4 separate regions of the Homo sapiens genome follow, and regions 2, 3 and 4 are each linked to region 1. The links come from fine-mapping of genetic effects on gene expression. A gene starts in region 1. Each other region holds a variant in brackets. All regions are shown on one strand. Distances are between the middles of the regions.

Region 1 (5,150 bases):
TTTACAAAAGAGGAAATTGAGGCTTGGAGAAGTTAAGTAACTCACTCCAAGATACCCAGCTGGTCGGTGATGAAGCCAGAATTAAAAGACAATACTCCCAGAACTTCAGAGCTAGAGGGAATCCTACAATTATCTTTCCCCCTTAGCCTTCTTGAAGCTGAGGTTTATAACTTACTGCCTGGCACATAGTAGGCCCTTGAAAATAGTGATTAATACATTGACGGAGTGCCCTAATTTCTCAGATTCTGGCCTTCCCCTGAGAGAGCCCAGCTGCCACCACAAATAGACTCTATTCTTTCTGCCCAACACCTCTCACAGGTGTGAATTGCTTGTGTCATCTGAATTATTCATGATCCACACAATGGTAAGTGTGCTTTAAAAGAGAACTACAATGCTGTATTTTTCAAGACAAAGTGCCTGATTAATTGGGGAATTAGGCAGTATAAACTCATGGGCTAGGCTGATTCATGCCAAACAATACATCCATGCCCACTTTTTGAATTTCAGTTTTCACATAATTTCCCATTTTCCCTTAGGATTAAAAATAGGGGTAAATAAAGCAGGAAAAAGAACTATCATGGGCATCTCTAACCTATCTGAAAGCAATTACCATCATCTAAATCTCATACTGTGTTGTTTCAAACCAACGTATTCTTCCGAAGGCTGACTTAGGATTTTCAATCAGGTTTCTTAAGCTACATCAAGATCTGGAAATTCAGATGCCACAGCAGCTGTAATTCATGCCACCAGTAAATCATGTGACACCACCAGCTCCTTGTCCTTTCTCCTTTCGTCTTTTCTTTTGCCCCACCAGTTCATTTTCTAGTGGGCAGTTTTCTGAGAGGGATAACCATATGCTAATAGAAAGCCAACACCACTGTATTTTAAATTCAATGTTAGTCAACCAAAATGAATTGAAAAACAGCAGCAGTGGTTTGAGGGTACTAAAAATAAACTGTAGCATTTGCTGAGTTCTCAGAATTAAAACCACGGCGGTCAACTTGTTGCTGCTCTTAATAAGATATGACTTCTGCCCCATTGGCTGCCACTACTAGAAACTTGAACTATATCACACACCTAACAACAACGTGTTTTCAATTAGTTGGCAGTGATCGAGAAAGGAAGTGCCATTTCCCAGGAAGTAAATCTGCCAAGAAAGATAACAGATGGCTTTCAAGTGATCACCTTGTGCCACATCACAATTGCACCTTAGTCAAATTCACCTTGCATTTATGATTTAGTGAGTTACACATCTAAAGCTGTGGTTGCCTTTTTGCCCTGCTTGCTATCCAATGCCTCCAAAAAGGTGTTTCTTCCTTTGAGTTTAATTCGCGAATAATAATAAAAACAGCCCAATGGGACTTAATACAATATTAATATATTGAAGCACTTCCATTAGGACTTCATGACCTTCTTGACCCTTAAATACTGTATACTACCCTAAATGTCTTATCAGCTATCCCTTTGGGTTTGTCATTAAAGTTTTCAATGACCAGAGAGGTACAGGAATTCTACCTAATGCATCATTCTGATTAGAAACCTGTCATACTCAGAAACCAGTGGGTCTGCCTCTATTGATTCCTACTCCTTCAGATTCATTAGCAATTTTTTTCTCTTCAATTAGACCCGATGATCAACCATAGAAAAGCTGAAAGAAGCCTTCCCTTTGCTCAACCATTCTTAAAAGGAAAAAAAATGCATGCCTTGCTAGTGAAATTACAGCCACTATTATCAGAAAATCTCTAAGGAGTCTCTCTCTCTCTCTCTCTCACACACACACACACACACACTCTCTCTCTCTCTCTCTCTCTCTCTCTCTCTCTCGTAAATGTGCCAAGAGTCAGAGGATGGGCTCGACCTCTCTTCCCCTAACCCACTTCAATCAGGATCAGAAAGATACATCCCTTCATTGCTGCTGTCTAAAACCCATGCCCAAGCGAGTGTCTCCATAGAGCTAATTTCTGAAACAAACAAAGAAAATCAAGTCTGCGAGGAGCGAGGGTTTGCTCCCCTCTGCTCCGGATTTGGGTGTCCAGGGTAGCGGGCGCGGCACGGCAAACAGGTCGGGGCGCTCTGCTTCACCCCAACCTTCTCCGCCCCGCCAGCCCCCGCTCCAGCTGCGCCAGAAAGTGCGAGCCTGCCCGCTCCTTTCGCTTTTCGCTCGCTGCACTCCAAGCCCCGGAACACCCGCGTCCGCACACTAAGGGCACCACCGCTCTCCCACCTCTGCGCTGTCAGATGTCAGGCGCGGAGGTGCTCTGGGCACCGAGGTGCTGGCGAACCAAACAAGTATCACCCCGGACGCCTGCCCCCATTCCGAGAGAGCGGGCGGGATGGCCACAGGTAGGCTCTGTCCATCCCAGGCTGCGGGGCGAGGGCAGTGGGGCGAGACCCGGCGCGGCAGCAGCGCCCGACGGGCTGAAACTCACCGGAGGACACCGACGAGCCGGACAGGCTGGAGTTGCTGGACGCTGCCATCTCCGCGCGCCCCTCGCGTCGCTGCTCGCTCAGCCCCGGTGCGGACGCCGCCGCCGCTGCCCTCGCCCGGCCGCTCGCAGCCTCCGCGGCCCCCAGCCCATGGCAAAGTCCTGGGGACGCGCAGAAAGCACCAGCCTCCGGACTCTGCCTGCACTTCCTGCTCCACCAGATGACGCGCTGCCGCCGCCGCTATTTATTTGTGGTTTCCGTCCCGCTCCGCGCCTTTGCACGCTTTTCTATGGGTGTCAGGGGGTAGGTGGGAGCAGAGGGAGGCCGAGGGGCAGCCGGGACGGGCGGATCTCGGCTCCCGCCGAGCCCCTCTGCCGTCCACGCTCCCCTGTGCGCGGCTGGGACCAGGGCGTCCTGGCAGCTCCGAGCCGCCCCGCCAGCTCCCGCACCCTCTCCTGGGCTCCCGCCTCTCCCGCCGCACTTCGAGTAGACCGGGCAGAGGCGGCGGGAGACGGACAGACAGAGCGACCTCCCCCTTCTCCCTCCGCCCCAACTCCGCTCGCGCACACACAAAGGAAGAAGAGGAGACGCGGTCGCTCGGGGGGTGGTTCGGCTGCTGCGGGCTTGACAGCTCCCGCCACTGGGGCTGGAGGGGGAGGCTGCGGACTGCTGGACAGGGGGAGGCGGGACGGGGGACCGGGTCCCCGGGGTGCTGGGGAGGCCGGGGCCGGGCGCGGGGCGAGCGCGGCTGCTGCGCGCAGCGCTGCTCCTAGGATTTGAAGGGGATGGGGAGGGAGGGTGTGGGGGAAGGTGGTGGGGCTCACCGCGCCCCGCCGGGCTCTCGAGCAGCGAGACAGTGGGGGTGGGGGATCCAGAGGGCGAAGGCGGGATCACTAGGGCCACGGTGCTAGGCAGAAGGGAACCTGGGATGACAGAGCCACTATGGAGCGCTCCTTCCACTCCTCTCCAAATTGTCCTTTGTTGCTCTGGAGCTGACGGTCCCTGCCCTGCAAGAAGGTGCGTTTCCTAAAACACCCGGGAAGCCAACCCAGCTACACTTAAGTAACCCAGCCACGGACAGTGCCCGACGCGTCCGTGGGCCTCTGAGGTTGGCCTTCAAAGAAATAGAGCCGTCCAAACGTGTCATCAGGCCCACACAAAGCTGGTGTCAAAGAGAAAGAGGTTCTCCGTGCCTTGCAAAAAAAGATTCTCACAAAAGACTTAAGACTTGGCAGCAGGTCCGACTGTGCCCTTTCAGGATAGGAACTGCTCAGGTGTGTGAGAGAAAGAGACTCGAGCACAAGGTGTGTCCCTTCCCCCTGTATTTAAACCTAAATTAATTTCACTGGGAGGAAATACCATGCAGATTTTTTTTAAGTCTGTTTCACGCTCCCAGCGGGCTAATCGGTTCTTTCAATCCTAAAGCAACAGAAAACTGTGAAATTTGAAGAGAAATTGTTAGATCAAAGGAAAAAGCAAACATTAAAGGAATGAAAGTACTCTCATTATATAGCAAAAATGGAAAGTGTTCACATTGGGGTAGTTCAACTTTTTAAAACATGGTTAAAAGAACATAGTCAATTTAAAAATTATCAGGAGTGACACAGAACAGCAGCTAGGCCCTGGGGATCCACATCAACCAAGGACCTAACATACAGTGAATAATGAATGTTAAATAATCACAGTACGCACCCACGTCACATTTTCTAGTTGATTAGAACTTAAAAAAAAAAATCCCTCCAGGATACTATCCCAGTGTGTCTTCTCATTAAGGTCCATTTTTTAAAAATACACCTTGCTAAACTGTTAAAGGAGTGTGAGCACTCTTCAGTCACGTGGGACTGCGTCTTCCTACCCCTCAACTGTATGGACCTTGAAACAGCCCTGGCTGGTCTAAGGAGACCCAAGCGCCCGCATTTTCCCAGCCCCTACCACTATCCTTCATTTTGTGGACTGCACGAAATGATGCAGTTCCTAATCTGGAGCCTTCAGGGACACGTGACCCATCACACACTTGGCTTGTTGATCAGATCAGAAGGAACTTACTGTTTCCCCAGAGTTCTTCTGATAGAAAACAGCACTTACTTGTTTGACTAGTAATCTATGTAGCCCCCCAGATCTTTAGATGGTGGACTATCTGACTTGGCTATGTCGCCCGGTAGAATTTTACCATCTGGGCTTCGAAGACAACTGGGTTCAAACTCTGGTTCTGTCACTTAGCTGCGAACTTGAGCAAATTACTTAGACCTACTGAGCCTCAGTTTCTACACCTGCCACAAAAATCTGATAACACAGGATGCTGTGAAGATTAAATAAGATGCTATGTGGAAAGCTACAGTGTACCTGGCATGAAGTTTGTGTTCCAAAGTGATTGTAAGTTGCTCACTTTAAGGAAGGAATGTATAGTTTGAAAAATTTTTGCTTTCTTCATTGCATCTGGAGATAACTAATCAACTGTGACCTGTTCTACTAGGGGGAAATGTCTTATCTTCAATCTATGGCTTATATTTCTTGTCCCAAATTGTGCAATAGGGTAACAGGTTTCATTATTCATCTCTGAAATTTCACAAAAGGACAACAGATTATGTTTCTGCAGTTCGGATACTCATATTTCCCTTCATAGTGTTTTAACTGGAGAAAGTAAAGCATGGCTCTGTGAGGCAGATTATTTTTATTGTCCTAAATTGACAGATGAAGGGACGGGGGTATTTGCTGTGAAGGCA
Region 2 (5,150 bases), 41 kb after region 1:
GTCAGTTTTGATAAAGAATTATGACTTCTTGGACTTTTTCTTTAGCTATGCAGAAGCTAAAAATCTGATAATTTAGCATAATGCTTGTGTAAGCTGTGCTGGAGAGTAATACATAGTCGCTTTCATACTAACATAAAGCTCCTTGGTCAAAATTACACCAATAATGCATATTTAATTAGCGTTTATAGATATCTAAAGAGGAAAAAAAACCCACAAAGTTTCCCTCACAGATGACCTTTATCGGGGATGCCTTAGCTGAGTTCCTTCAGATGCCTCAGGGCAAAATTTCAGCCCCAATAAAAGGAGATGACATATGGCTGGTTATTTCACAAGATCGCCATCTTTAGATTGAATTTAACTTTTTTTTCCTCAGAGCTAGAGCTTTATGGAGTTTTCGGGTTTTGGAGGTAGCTTGATGGTACAGTGCCTCAGATTTATAATTTCTAATTAAAATGTGTCCTTCATATCAATTTTAGAGAAGTACCAAGCTTAATTTTGGCATTTAATCATCGAAATTTGTTTTGACATTTTTGAAACACAGATCCCAATACTAAGATGTAATTACTTTGCAACAGATTTGCAAGGAAGGCGACAGGCCACAGAAGAACTTCTAAACACAGGCAAAACCAGACGAGTCCAGTGGGGGAATGGAAGATAGACCTGAATGTCAAAAAACTCAAAAGTAAATATATGGTTTTCCAGTTTTCTCTGTCTGAGGGCTCACCTTGCACACATTAACTCTTCCCTCTCTCACCATGCTTCGCCGGTTTATCCCTCAGCACTCTTTTGATTTAAGGGAAGAAAACCAATATTAAATGTAAAAGTAAGTTTTCTCACTAACAGCCCAAGGGGCACAGCTGGCTAGGCTGTGCAAGAGCACGTGGCCGTCTCTAGATCTATCGGCTCAGGGCCTATTTCCCAGCTCACAGACCCTGACAGGACGCTCCGATGTGGTCTGAAGGACAGAGGGCATTTAGAAATGTCCTCGCCTTTCCAGGTGTCCTGAGGCCTAGAAAAAAAAAATCCATCACAAGGATGAGATTTGTCAACAGGACCCCTCCAGCCAGCCTACCCTCCTGGCTCCCGATGAGGGAGGACTGTCCACGGTTGACCTTGCTAAAGGACAGGATTTAAAAACACGGAAGCAGGACGATGATTGGAAGAATCCAAAGCTTGTATTCCAAGCTTCAGATTGGAGTGGAGGCAGCTAGACAAAGAGGTGAGAAAAATGGCAGTTTTGGTGTCAGAGAGACCTATGCTTGAATTCCAGTTCTGACACTCAGTAGCTCTTTGATCTTGGACACATGTTTGAACATCTCTATTCTTCTGTTACATCCATTAGAAAATGGAGAATATAATATCTACCTTTTCGGGTTACAGTAAGGGCTGAATGACCTCATGTGTGATACACTTAGCATGACTTTGGCTGGTAGTAAGGATTTAATACCTTTTAATTTCTTTCTTTTCTCTCAGCCTTGTCTTTCCTCTTAGCATTGGAAAGAGTTCTATTTATTTATTTTTGATAATGGCTTTTTAACTTATGTTGTTAAAATGTAGTTGTTTTCCCTGAAATGGTGCAACCCAAGTTTAGATAATAATAATACTTCTTTATTTTCATTTATTTATTTTTTTGAGATGGAGTGATATGGTTTGGCTGTGTCCCCACCCAAATCTCATCTTGAATTCCCACGTGTTGTGGGAGGGACCTGGTGGGAGGTAATTGAATCATGGGGGCAGGTCCTGTGCTGTTCTCCTGACAGTGAATAAGTCTCACGAGATCTGATGGTTTTAAAGAGGGGAGTTTCCCTGCACAAGCACCCTTCTCTTTGCCTGCCACCATCCATGTAAGATGTGACTTGCTCCTCCTTGTCTTCCACCATGATTGTGAGGCTTCCCCAGCCACATGGAACTGTAAGTACAATTAAACATCTTTCATTTGTAAATTGCCCAGTCTCGAGTATGTCTTTATCAGCAGTGTGAAAATGGACTAATACACGGAGTCTCACTCTGTC[G/A]CCCAGGCTGGAGTGCAGTGGCGTAATCTTGGTTCACTGCAACCTCTGCCTTCCGGGTTCTAGAGATTCTCCTGCCTCAGCCTCCCAAGTAGCTGGGACCACAGGTACGTGCCACCACACCTGGCTAATTTTTTTTATTTTTAGTAGAGATGAAGTTTCACCATGTTGGCCAGGCTGGTCTCAAACTCCTGACCTCAAGAAATCTGCCTGCCTCGGCCTCCCAAAGTGCTGGGATTACAGGCATGAGTCACCGTGCCCAGCCTAATAATAATACTTCTTTAAATATCGATCAGGTGTGAACTGTTTCATGACATCTAGAGTATAAGAAGTGTCATCTCTTTTTATGTTTTTGAAAAAGAATCCAGTTTGAGCTCACACCTGCTGAGTTTGGCAGGAACATCCAAAATCTACAGGTGAAGGGAGGCAAAGAGAAGGGATGGGGAAGCCCCACCCATTTAGCTCATACAGACATGCTAGAGGCTGATTCACTGCATACGAATGGAGAGGGGCCTGATCTCCAGCATTTACACTGCTGTTGCCCTTATTGTTCCTTCACTTACTCAGAGCTGCTGGCTGGGGCCCCTCCTCTGTCTGCTGGCATCCTGTTCCACAGATTCTGCAATGAGAAGCCCACCACCCTCCTCCCCAGGGGCAACTGTCAGAATAAATGAGGCTGTGATGTGGTGACAAACAGGTCCTAGATATTAGTTCAGTTGACTCTCGAGAAATGCAGAGGTTAGGGCTGTCAACCCCCTGTGCAGTCAAAAATGCACATATAACTTTTGACTTCTCCAAAACTTAACTACTAATAGCCTACTGTTGACCAGAAGCCTTATTATAACATAACAATTAATATATTTTGTATTTTATACATATTATATACTATATTATTACAAGAAAGTAAGCTAGAGAAAAGAAAATGTTACTAAGAAAATCATAAGGGAGGCCAGGTGCGGTGGCTCATGCCTGTAATCCCAGCACTTAGAGAGGCCGAGGCAGGTAGATCACTTGAGGCCAAGAGTTCGAGACCAGCCTGGCCAACATGGTGAAACCCTGTCTCTACTAAAAATACAAAAATTATCTGGGTGTGGTGGCACACACCTGTAATCCCAGCCACTCAGGAGGCTGAGGCATGAGAATTCCTTGAACCTGGGAGGCGGAGGTTGCAGTGAGCCAAGATCATACCACTGCACTTCAGCCTGGGCAAAAGTGAGTGAGACTCTGTCTAAAAGAAAAGAAAATTATAAGGGAGAGAAAATGTATTTACTGTTCATTAAGTGGAATTGGATCACCATAAAGGTCTTCATCCTCATTGTCTTCACATTGAATAGGCTGAAGAGGAGAAGAAGGAAGAAGAGGGGTTGGTCCTGATGTCTCAGGGGTGGCAAAACCAGAAAAGGTAGAGAGGTGGGAGAGAAGGTGGACACACTCAGTGTCACTTTTCTAGAAAAAAATCCGTGTATAAGTGGACTTGTGTAGTTGAAACACATGCGTTCAAGGGTCAACTGTAGTTTAAATCAACAGATGTTTATTTATTTCCAAGCCTGCCTCTTTCTTTGGAGGCTTGGGGCAAGAGTACACACAGAGGCCCACATACCATATGTCTAGATATGTAACACTTATAAACCAGGGAACAAACTGTTAAATGAAATATACCCTCTTACCTTGAAAGATATACCTTGATAGCAACCTAGATAATCAATTTGAGTTTATAATTCTGAGACTTCCTGAAGTTCTGTGCTACAACATGGTGGTGTAGAGTGCTACCTTTACACCTGTCCTTCTCCTGGACATCCTTCCCTGTGCATCCCAGCTCTGTAAGCATGGCCTTTGGCCACCCCTCAGATAGAGGATGACTCCAAGGAAGAGTGGCATGCAGGCTCTGGAAGCAAGCTTGTGGACATTTGGGCAAAGAATTCTGAGGTCCTTGTTATTCAGACCATGGAGGAGAATTTGCAAATATGGAATCCACGAATAACAAGGATCGAGTGTATTTTGTTTTGCTTGCCTGTTTCTTGTCAAAATTTACTGAGAGAAACTTAACAATGGGGTGCACCGAAAGAGACAAAATGGCGTTAACTCTTCCAACCGTCTCAGAGCAAAAGAGCCCAGAATTTAACAGCTCTGTGTCAGGTCACTTTTCTACTGAGAAGAAGGGATAATTCCTTTTTTCTTTTTGCTGATAGATCTCTGGGTGGGGTGGATGGGAACAAACTAAGCCCAGGCAATTTATATCACATTAGTGATCATGGTGTCACATGTGGCATAAGACAGGCACTGTATCATTTAGCTAGTGCATTCAGACTCCTTGGCTCAGTAAAGGTGGATAGAGTGGGTAAGTTGTTATGACTTCCATTTTCAAATGAGGAAAGCAAGAAAGATTTAGCCAGGAACTGAGAATAGAGAACAAAGAGACCTGGGGACTGGCTTTCTGGCACCTTTTCTCTTTCTCACTGCTTGGTGCTCCTAGGTGTAGCTGTCTCAGAATCAAGGGGGAATCCTTTAAATCCATAGCAGTTAACCCAGCAAGAAGTTCTGAGCAGTCTAGCCTGAGCTGCCACGCATAAAAAGCAACATAAGGTTTTATGCAATTGCTTGAGCATTCCTACCAAGAAATACCTTTTGCCCATTTTACTTGTATTCCTTTATTTGGTGATGTGACCTAGTTCTTGAAGTTCTGGAAAACCCTTCAGAGGCTATAGAGTCACTTTTCTAGATAACCCACTTTGGATCATGCAACTCTTCATAGGCACAATATGAGTAAGCAGAGCACCTGCACTAACCACTATTTCCATTCGAAGAAAATAAAATAAAACCTAAACAAGAGAAAAAGAGGAGACTCCAAATACTACTTCACCTAAGGGAGTTTGTTTACTATCTGTTTGTCCTTTGCAAATGTCTTTCCTTCAACCAGTGAATGACCTGCTTGCTATGGGCCAGACATTGTGTTGATGGCTATACATACAATTTCGTCAAATCCTCAGATCAGCCTTGTAGGATTGGTGGTGTTCTCTTCCCATACATGAGAAGGCTAAGGCTTAGAGAGGTTAATTAACACAGCAAAGGTCACACAGCTAATGAGTGGCTGAGCTGGGATTCAGATGCCATCGGTCTACTCCTAAGGCCATGCCCTTAATC
Region 3 (5,150 bases), 870 kb after region 1:
GGGTTCACTGCCCTAGACAGAGTAGGGATGTTGGAGATACAGTGAGTGACACAGGAGGGGAGATACTGATAAGAGTTCAGGAGCCGAAAAGTGGTACAGAGTAAGAATAACTCCTTGAGAGGATGAAGGGGCACTTTGTTTATGACACAAGAAGGAAAGGAAAAGGGTATGGGTAGATTAACTGCTGAAAAAAAGTAAAAGAATTACTACCTAGTTGCTTCTATTTTTCCAATGAAGAATGAAGCAGGGTCCCAAGATAGGAACACGGAGGAAGGGAAGAGGAGAAGGGATAAAAAGAGTAATTTTGAAGCATGGAAAAGTGAAGTAAATAAGATTTGCTGCTACGTTGAATGTCCATTTGAGATTTGAGGGCAAGGATTTAAAGTGAGAACAGTCAGCACAGTTGTGGGTTTTTCTCCAACCAAGTGCAGGCACATAGTAGGTAGTTGTGGGTTTTAACCAGGATTGGGGCTCTCCCAGCCAAGTTCGGTGAGGGGAGGGTATGAAAGAATTAGGGTGCTAATGTTCCTAGTGACAGGGCATGGTCATTAAGCTGGATACAGAAGGAAATGAGGGCACTAAGGGAGGTATTAAAGTGCTGGTCAATGATTTGTTGGTGGTCAATTCGTCAACAAGGCAGAAGAATTACTAGTGAGTACTAGAGTTGGTTAGCTAAAGGACAGAGGGAGGGGACTAAGAATATGGTCTTAGGAGTGGATAATTATAGAAAATGATCATTGGAGGGGACATGGTGGAAGAACTGAGAGGCCAGTTACATTTAAGATTAAAAATTCATTTTGGATACACTGGATAAAGACAATGTGGCACATATACACCATGGAATACTATGCAGCCATAAAAACGGATGAGTTCATGTCTTTGCAGGGACATGGATGAGGCTGGGAACCATCATCCTCAGCAAACTAACACAGGAACAGAAAACCAAAACCAAACACTGCATGTTCTCACTTACAAGTAGGAATTGAACAATGAGAACATGTGGAGACAGGGAGGGGAACATCATACACCAGAGCCTGTCGGGGAGTGGGGGGCTGGGGGAGGGAGGGCATTAGGACAAATACCTAATGTATTAGGGGGTTAAAGCCTAGATGATGGGTTGATAGGTGCAACAAACCACCATGGCACATGTGTACCTATGTAACAAATCTGCATGTTCAGCACATGTATCCCAGAACTTAAAGTAAAACTTTTAAAATAAAAAAATTAAATTTAATTTTAAAAATTCATTTTGAAATTTGACAATATCTCAGCTTGCTAAATGGACTCTGCTTCCATGTTTCCCCTCACCTTCCAAAGTCTAAGATGATTAATTGGAAAAGAGTAAGACCTAAGGTAAATAAACAGAAAAACAATTAGACTACCCACTTAGTAAGTGGGTAGTCCTGAATTTCAAAAATCCGTTAATTCTGTTTTACCCAAGGAGCCAATTGTTCCTCACAGAACCCTTTTCTCAAGTAACACACTTTGGAAAATGCCCATCTAATGCTTTTGGGTAGAAGAGCACAAAGGTCTTTTTAAAAGCTACTTTTTTACTACATCTCTGGGGTAGACCAGTTGGTTAAAATGTGCATTTTTCTCCCTAAGTTTAATAAATGGATAAAATGAGTTACCTAATTTGTGTTCGTCTCACTAAAACTGATAATAAAATCCAATTTCTACATCTTAAGCCAAAGAATCACTTAATAACCAAAATGGGATTTCGTTGATTGCTAACTTCACATCTTTTCTGCTACTGTCAGTGCCAACTTCATGTATCTGACACAGGGTCCCACACTCAGAAGGGGGCCACCCCTTGGAGCATCGGCGCTCTGTGATCATGTTGAAAATTCTTAATAATTTTACCTTTGAATGTGTTTCTCCTAAGTGAAGTCCAGTGGAACAATGAAGTGTGCACTAGGGCTTGGGGCCTCTGCTCCTGTGCAGTCCCCCACTCACCACCTCCCTGCCTCCCTGGGATGGGTTCTCTGCCAACCCTCTCCTGCCCCTAGCCCAGTGATCTCTGTCACCTCACCCCTGGCAAAAGGCTGGACACAAACACAGCAAAGGGTGGAGTTGGGCGCACACTCACACACCAAATTTCGAGGAGGGACTCCAGGCACTTGTGAGTCTATACTTGCCCAGAGAATATACGTGCCTGAGAGAAGATGGGTCAATAAATAGCCAACAAAGAACCCTGTGATAGATTGGGTATGAGAGAGAGATAGAAGAAAAAGAAATGTTTTTTCCCCCTGATTTTTGGACAAGAGGCCCTGAAGTTTCATTTTGTCCTGTGCTCGACAAATTATATAGCCAGCCCTGGCCATTTCGCATGTACAATCATGCTAATAAAGAAGGACGAGGAGGAAGAGGAAAAGAGACAGAAAGAGGAGAAGGAAAAAGAAGAGGAGGATGAAGGGTACAAAAAAAAAGAGGATGAAGAGGCAAAGACAATGCTTGCATTAGGAAGCTAATACTTTCACAACACTTACTAAGTGTCAAGCAGTGTGTCCAAGTTCTTTACATGCTCTAGCGTGTTTAATCCTCTCTACAATCCGTTGAGACAAGTTCTATCATTGCCCCATTGTACAGATGAGGAGAGAGCAAGGCCCAGAGAGGTCAGGTAATTTGCCCAGGGTTTCCCAGGTAGTCAGTGGCAGAGCCATGCTCCACACCTAGGCCATCTTGCTCCCGAGTCCGTGTTCTCCTCTGCTCTCCCATTCTGCCTCTCTGCATTACGTATCAATTACATATACTTGCACCTGCACCTTGGTTTTTACATAAAACTTTCAGAATATGTATCCACTTTGCTTACATTTGTCTTTTCACTCATAAAATTTTCTTAACTTAAGAATTGTCTTCTGCTTTGGTAATCCACAGCTAATGGAAGTGCTGAATAATGTTGACTCTGTAGAGTGAAGTGGACATTCTTCTAAT[A/G]TTTAAAATGCTGTCTTTGCTTAAACAGACAAGTGTCGGCAAGCCTAATTTATTCACCCACCAATAATTATCTTAGCTGAGGATATGGGCCCGTACTTGGCTTGGAACCTTAACATAGAACAATCTCCACCATATTTCCTGTATTCCAGAACTAGATCTTTATGTAACACAGGCCAGTAGGATGCAGGCAGGATCAGGAGCTGCAATTCAGCAAAGGGGAAGGGAAGCCTGGTAAAGCGGAGCTTGAAGCTAGGCTCCTACGTGGTCCATGTTCTTATAGGTGTTTCTTTCCAAACTGCTGGCTTTTATCCCTGCAGCCACCAGCTTTCCTGGGTGGGATCCTCTGGCATTGAACGGCCCCTAGATTCCCTGTAATGGAATTATCTTCTCTTTGAGAAGGGCATTATTTTTTCACCAGTCATTTACACACTTTATAATTTGTGCCGACTACATGGGATTGGTGTTACATCAAGATTACATAAAAGCGGCCAGGCGTGGTGGCTCATGCCTGTAATTCCAGCATATCCGAGGCCGAGGCAAGCAGACCACTTGAGGTCAGGTGTTCGAGACCAGCCTGGACAACATGGCGAAACCCCGTCTCTACTAAAAATACAAAAATTAGCCAGGCATGGTGGCACGCAGCTGTAGTCTTAGCTACTTGGGAGGCTGAGGTATGAGAACCACTTGACCCCAGGAGGCAGAGGTTGCAGTGAGCCAAGATCACACCACTTCACTCCAGCCTGAGTGACAGAGCGAGAACTTGTCTCAAAAAATTTTTTTAAAAATTAAGAAAATTACATAAAAGAAAAAAAAACACTATTTGTAGCAAAAAGATTTATAAAGGGGAATGTTTTCCATGAGAATAAATATGAAAAAGCCTAGCCACCTTCCCAGCCTCCTGCCACCTAGAGTTTTCATCAATTAAACAAACACATTACCCCAAGCACATGGGATAACACTTGAAGCAGACCACGGAAATAATAAAGACACAGACTTCGGGGATGCTCACTCTACCCTTCTGGTGCTGCCTTTGGACTTGATGGGGAAATGGTGGGGCACTCTTGAGAAGAGTGGGCTGGGCTGTGAGCATGGGTAGAGCGGAGGAGTCACCTGCATCCACCTTCATCACCTCCAGATGAACACCGAAAGGCACTGTGTGGATGGAGGGCTAGAAATAGCATTTTCACAAATACTCCGAAGTCCAGCCTCCTCTTTATCTTTTGTTCAGAGAATAACAAAGAAAATACTTCCACTAGGAATCTTGGGAATCAAAGGACGACACACCTTTGCTCTCTTTTACCATAAAGCTACCCTGCAACTTGCCAACATTGAGGGGTAAAAATACTCCAACTTATGGGCAAAGGTATTCTATGTAAATGAGTGGCACAAGTGAAAGATAAATAAGATACACAGGAATTACTCTATAAGAGAAACAAGCCCTTTTTGCCCTTACTAGTGAGTTTTTCAGTTGCCCTTTGACCCACCGATCTTCTATACAGGCCATGTAATATGGCACACCTATTAGGAGATGCCATTTTCTTCCTTTCCCTCCACTGGAGTTTTTCCTTATGGCTCCCTCTCCTTCTCAAGCTGGGGAACAGGTCTCAAGGTACATTCTAGGCCCTGACCTTAAAGAAACCAGAAAAGAGTATTGGAATGACCCCATATGTCACTCCACCCACTGACTTAGTACATTTAACATACAGATAAGCGGGCTTCCTTTAGTCGAATTGCTTGAAGTGCCACAGATAGAATGTCAGTCCAGAATCAAAATCTATTGAGTAGATGATATTTGGGAGGACTTTTCTGGTACTTTTTGTTTTTCTTCCCCACATAATTATTTCCAGGTGTTATATTATCAATCTACAGAAGCCTAAGCAATTTGATTTTGATGAGCCTTGAAATTCTTCCTCTTCAATGTAGCAGCATAGGATGCTGTATTTACGATGATATTCTGTGCCTCTTCTAAGAGTCTAGTATTTCATTCTGTAGAACTAGATGCAGGACATTTTAGGCACGATCCCTGAACCAGGAACTGGTTCTGTCTCTCAGTCTCTTTCAGCCTGAACATGCCTCCTGGGTCAAGCCATGTGGTCCAACTCCTGTCTCAGGCAACCCTGAGAGTGAGGCATTGTAGCAGAGAAGGGAGGCTCTATAGAGAATCAGTGATGTTGGAAATATGTGTATTGTTAGTCATACTTTTTCTAAAATGAATA
Region 4 (5,150 bases), 280 kb before region 1:
TGTATATTTGTGTGTTTTTAACACAAGCTCAGACACAGAATATACATGGACAAGCTACTCCATGCAAACATATTATAGTATGGCATAATTCCAATTTCTTAACGCCAAATGAATTGGAATTTTCAAGAGGAAGAAAAAGAATTTACAAGTCCATGAAGATCCATCCTCTCATCACTAGTAGTGTATCCACAGGATGCAAAAAAATCAAGGATTTCTGCTAAAAATCAAAAAAACACTTTCTTAAGGCCAAAAAAAATTAATGAGGATAAAAATGGAAAACAGAGTAAAAAAAAAAAAAAAAACGGGAGGCATTTAATGCTCCAAATTAGACCTGTCAATATTCAGTGACGGGAGAAATATGAAAAGCTTTGGCATAGAAGAGGACCTATGCAATGCAATTCTTCACCCTAATGCTAAGTATGTAGGGCTGTATAATTCCATTCCTCAGTTCAATTATAGCATGCAAATGCCTGAGCTGCTGGCTTTCTAAAAACAGATGCAGGGAAACAGACCAAACTAACACCAATGTATATTTAATAGATGAATATTTGTCCTCAGAAAGGATCGGAAAGCAACAGAATAAAATCAGTTTCCCTCGTCACCTCTGACAAAAGGGTTATCTAATTCCAAGAGTCACTTGGGTTACTGACCCTAAAGGAAACAAGAATTTTTTTAAAAGAAAGCAATTCACATTTTGCTTCTCCTGCCTATTGTTTTCTTCCTGGATCCTCCATCTCCACTCTCCCCAACTTTCAAACTGCCAGCTCACTTTTTGGGGTGAAGCCTCTAACTCTAACCTGTCTCTCCTCCTCTCAACTGCAATTCAAGCTAGACAATTTGGCAGCAGCATCCCTTTCCAGCCCTTCTTGGAAAACACTTGGGCAAAGGAAACAGGCCATAATTTTCTGATGGCAGGCCCCTTCTACAAGTACCAGTCTGAAACGAACATAGCGGTCTTTCCAGTTTATAAATTCACTTGGGAAATTCCACTTAACCCCTCACCAGGTTTCCAGATCTTTTTGTTTGGTCTGGTGAGCAGGATAAAGGCTGTGACCAAGGGTGCCCCCCCTGCTAGCCGTACCCGGAGCACAAATAAAAGCTTCTGGATGGCATCTCCTGTCATTATTTGATTTCACAGGTGTCTACGCATAAAGGAAAGGAGTTAGCATCACTGAAAACAAAAGACAAAACACAAAACGAGAAACAGGCAACTGTTTTCCCTTGCTCGGAGACAGCAATATTCTTTACTGAGTGGAAAAGTACTGCTCAGCTCTCAGCAGAACATCTCTGACTGAGAGAGACTGGGCATGCTCTGTGTTTATTTCACTGGACATGGGAACGTGAAGTGGCAATGGGCCCAATTCTCCAAAACTAAGTCAACATCCAGATAAGGTGTTTCCAGGCATAAGCACTGAGCAGACTGCTTTCTGAGGTCTCCAGTTTGAACTGACAGAAAGCGCAGGTGTTAAGCTTATAGCTAAATGTGGAAAGCAAAGGAATTCATTGTCTCTTGACTTTACAGTCAGAAACCAGACGGAAACTATACACTGTACCTTTCCACCTGCCCTTTTGTAACAGAAGAAGGAATGCAGAGGCTTGCTTACCTTAAAGTTGTGTGTCTTCTCATAATTGAAGTGGTTGTCGTTGTGTGTGAGGGCAGCCCTTCGAACCAGGGAGGAGATCTGTGAACAGGCAAAGAGTTTGAGAGGGGGCCAAAGAAAGCCGCCTTTGACACCCACCTTCACCCCGAAGGCTACGGCCAGCAGTTCTTGGCGTTTCCTGCCCTGCTTAGACTTCCGAACCACAGCACACTTTTTCTCATTTTCCAGCCACAGTTCTTCAGAGAACATAGTGCCTGGATCCCAGCTCTTTCCAGTTTGCTCTGCAGAGCCCAGGAAGCCCTGTGCTGTCAGGATTTTCGAACCGCAGCTTATGTTAGGCGGCAGATTTGAGGCAGCTGGGTCCTGTCTGCAGCAGCCTCCGGCATGTGACCTGAAAGGCCCAGTTTGAGTGATGGAGGGGGCCCGGCTTCTGAATAAGGATGGGCCTGTTTTGTGCTATTTCTTAAGGCCGACGTGCGCCTGGAACAATAGCAAACATTCATGTGCACAGCAACCCCCAGAAGCGGTATCCAGTCAGCCACTGAGGATTCAGGGAGGCAGGGGCCGGCAGCCTGCTTTCTCCTGCCGCAGCACATTGCAAAGGAGAGGTCTCTCCTCCTTATTAGCACATTTCACACTCAAACACACCAGCGCACACACCCCCCAGCCAGCTCTGA[C/T]GTTCAAAGTCTGAGGCTGCATCCAATTAATCTGGGGCTCTGAACCCCATCCTGGGCTGAGCTCCAACAGATTAAACCTTTAAACCCTGATGACTGTTTAATCTTATAGGGGTAAAGCCTATGTCTCTTTATTAAAAATCTGCCTTAGCACTTGAAAGCTTAATTTTTATTCTTATGCATGCATTACATTGGAACAGTCTGAGCACCAAATGGGATATCAGAGGAGAGCAAAGCTTTTCCACTCTGAGTTCTGCAAAGTTGCAGAATAAGAGGCAGGATGTCTTGCCTCAGGACACTCCCCGGTCTCTCCTGTCCTTCCTGCACGAACAAACTCTGCTCAAACCCACACAGACAAGACAATATTCCTTACCTAAAATCAAAACATCATAATTGCTTTTCTTTTAAATAAAACATCTTCAGTGTTCATTCTGTTAGTGCCCAAGCCTATGAAAATGGCCTCCTTCCTCTTAAAAGCATCATCTGTTTGATGGTCTCCCATGACCCTAATTCTTTGATCCTAGGTCTCCCCATGAAAAGAAGCAGGGAAATCCTGATGTCTTGGGAGTACTCCTGACTCATTGGTGAAGATTAATGCAGCTAATGCCAGACAGTAAAATTAATGCTTTAGGAACTAGAAAACAAGATCTAGATAACTGGGCCTTTATGTAGATGGGCAGTCCTGTCCTCTACTCAAACAAGGGCCCCATGCTGCAGTCCCTCCAAGCAGCCTTGTGAAGAGTAACCAAAGATCACTCCTTCCCATGTGTAATTCTTTATTCCTGGTAAACACCATGATTTTAACTTGGTTCAAAAGTTCATCCTCCCATTTCATCCTCTCATGACCTTCAATAATAACACCCAATTTTTACGTTAAGCTATTGAGCACAATAATTTACGCTGTGTCAGAGGACGTTAGAATGTGTCAAAGGCACTTAACTCATTTAATCTGCAGCATATGGGTGTGAGGAGCAAGATTTTTATTCCCGATTCTTTTGGATGAAGAGAGCAAGGCACTGAGAGGTAAAGCAATTTGCCCAAGGACATGCAGCCTAGTTTAAGTGGCAGAACCAGGGCTAGAACACAAAGCATCTGTGTCCAGCGCCCATGCTCCTCAACACTGTGTCCTGCTGCCTCGGTACACCCATGTGCTGCCTCATCCTGCCATCAGTCCTGACAAATGCTTTATCTCAGATACTGGTTGAGTCTGGCCTCTCCCTACCTTTCTTTCCCCACATAACTCAGACCCTTGTTATCTCTCCAGTCCACCTTACACATCGCTCTACAACAATCTTCCTAATCCACCCATGCTTCTCCATAGCTTAACTGTGTCCTGGCATTGCTGGTTTTTCATGAGCTGATCCTAATGTACCCAGCTCATCCTATTTCCCTACACTCCCCTCCACAAATCCTACAACATCTCTTCTGTGACATACTTAACTGCTAACCTTGGTAGCTTGCTCTGTTCTTTAGAATATTCTAGCATCCTTTCAACATATCTACATTTTCACCAACATTTACATTCTGATTCTAATGCTACCCTTTCCAAAAGGACTTCCCCAGACTCCCCACTGAAGGCCAACTGTGTCCTCTGAAATCCCATAGTGTTTTATCCACATTTTTCTGATTGCACTTGTCACTTTCTGTCTTGTATTATAGTGACTATAACAGCTCTTATCCCTGCCACACTGAGAACTCACTGTGACATGCTCTATGCTTAATTTGCTTTTGTTTCCCCCTACAAAAGTGTCTAATAAGAGTCCTTGCCACAGTAGACACTGAATAAATATAAGTTGCTAGAAAGCACATGTACATATAGGAAGCCAGGGTTGTGGAAGAAGGTGTGCAAAGAGGACTGCATGGTGCGGGGTCTCCAGTCCCTCCTGTGACCACCCATCCACTGCCTCAGCTTCCAAAGACAAGGTTCCCTCCAGGGGTCTACTCTCTTAATGGGCTTCACCAGGCCCCTTGGCCCTTCTTCCCACTGTCCCATTCTGAAGGACAACTGTTATGGCAGGCGTTAAGTGAAGGCTTGGCATACCTTTGCAGGGCTTCCCATCCTTAGTCTACAGGTAAAAAGATGGAGAGAAGCAAAAAGGGTCCTTTCCCAACCTTCACTGCTAGCAAAGCGAGAGAGACCTTTTGATGGTGAGCCATTTGTGTAAGGGCAAATTCTGTGATGTGGACTGGACTAATGACATGAATATACCATTTTTAGAATCTGATCAAATAACTATTTACATGGAAAGTGGCCAAAAGAATCTCCTCCTTTTGGTCTATGGATGGTTGAATACAATGAGATTTAATATTTTTTCATGTCTGTGCTTGTATGTATAACAAGTAATTTTTATTTCCATTTGTGACAGTGATTTCTTTTTCAGCTATTGATTCAATAGAATTTACCCAAACACAAGACACATTCAGACAAGTGAAGGAACCAACACTATTCCCTTAGGATGCTTCTTTACAGGGGACTAGAAGTGTTAGCCTTTGAGCGAGCATTACTGGGAGCAGTGTGGGTGACCTCAGATCACCCTCTTATTAAGGGAAAACTGATTACAGTAATCTCTTGGCGAAAACTTCTCTCTGAAATAACCCCATCACACAGAGCTCTTTTTTATCTCAGCTCCTCAAGGACAGCTCCTTGCCTTATTTTATATGCTCCGTAATGTCTAATATAGTGTTCTCTATACACAAGGGACATTTAATACATTTGCTGACCGTCTTCTTCTAATGAAAATTTCTACCTGACCTATTTTAATATATACATTCATGAGATGAAGCACATTTCCCTACATGCTCTGTTTGAACCAGGGATTCTCACTGGAACGAATGGTCTTTTGGGCCAGATAATCTTTTGTTGTGGGAGGCTGTC

Direction of the effects. Positions count from the first base shown, and alleles are read on the strand shown. Sizes are in standard deviations (SD) of each study's normalised expression. Not every link is listed here.
With allele C in place of T in region 4, the expression in ovary of the gene that starts at base 2,645 in region 1 is higher (moderate effect, 0.56 SD a copy in GTEx).

Evidence for each region.
Region 2: its variant is fine-mapped to the expression of CHN2 in whole blood (TOPMed, PIP 0.94).
Region 3: its variant is fine-mapped to the expression of CHN2 in monocytes (Kim-Hellmuth 2017, PIP 0.95).
Region 4: its variant is fine-mapped to the expression of CHN2 in ovary (GTEx, PIP above 0.99).

The regions. Positions count from the first base shown.
Region 1 is chr7:29,192,270-29,197,419 of GRCh38, reverse strand. It overlaps CHN2 (chimerin 2), which reads right to left and starts at 2,645. Exons shown (of 13, transcript NM_004067.4): 1 at 2,430-2,645. The coding sequence starts at 2,478. It also overlaps a transcript of CPVL not described here. RefSeq lists an enhancer at 1,357-1,992.
Region 2 is chr7:29,151,676-29,156,825 of GRCh38, reverse strand. It overlaps a transcript of CPVL not described here and a transcript of CHN2 not described here. Among named protein-coding and RNA genes, the nearest start is that of CPVL, 7.7 kb to the right of the region's middle. The variant G/A (reference allele first, on the strand shown) is at 2,013.
Region 3 is chr7:28,318,500-28,323,649 of GRCh38, reverse strand. It overlaps a transcript of CREB5 not described here. Among named protein-coding and RNA genes, the nearest start is that of CREB5, 91 kb to the left of the region's middle. The variant A/G (reference allele first, on the strand shown) is at 2,935.
Region 4 is chr7:29,476,811-29,481,960 of GRCh38, reverse strand. CHN2 (chimerin 2) reads right to left here. Exons shown (of 13, transcript NM_004067.4): 7 at 1,605-1,682. Among named protein-coding and RNA genes, the nearest start is that of PRR15-DT, 84 kb to the left of the region's middle. The variant C/T (reference allele first, on the strand shown) is at 2,279.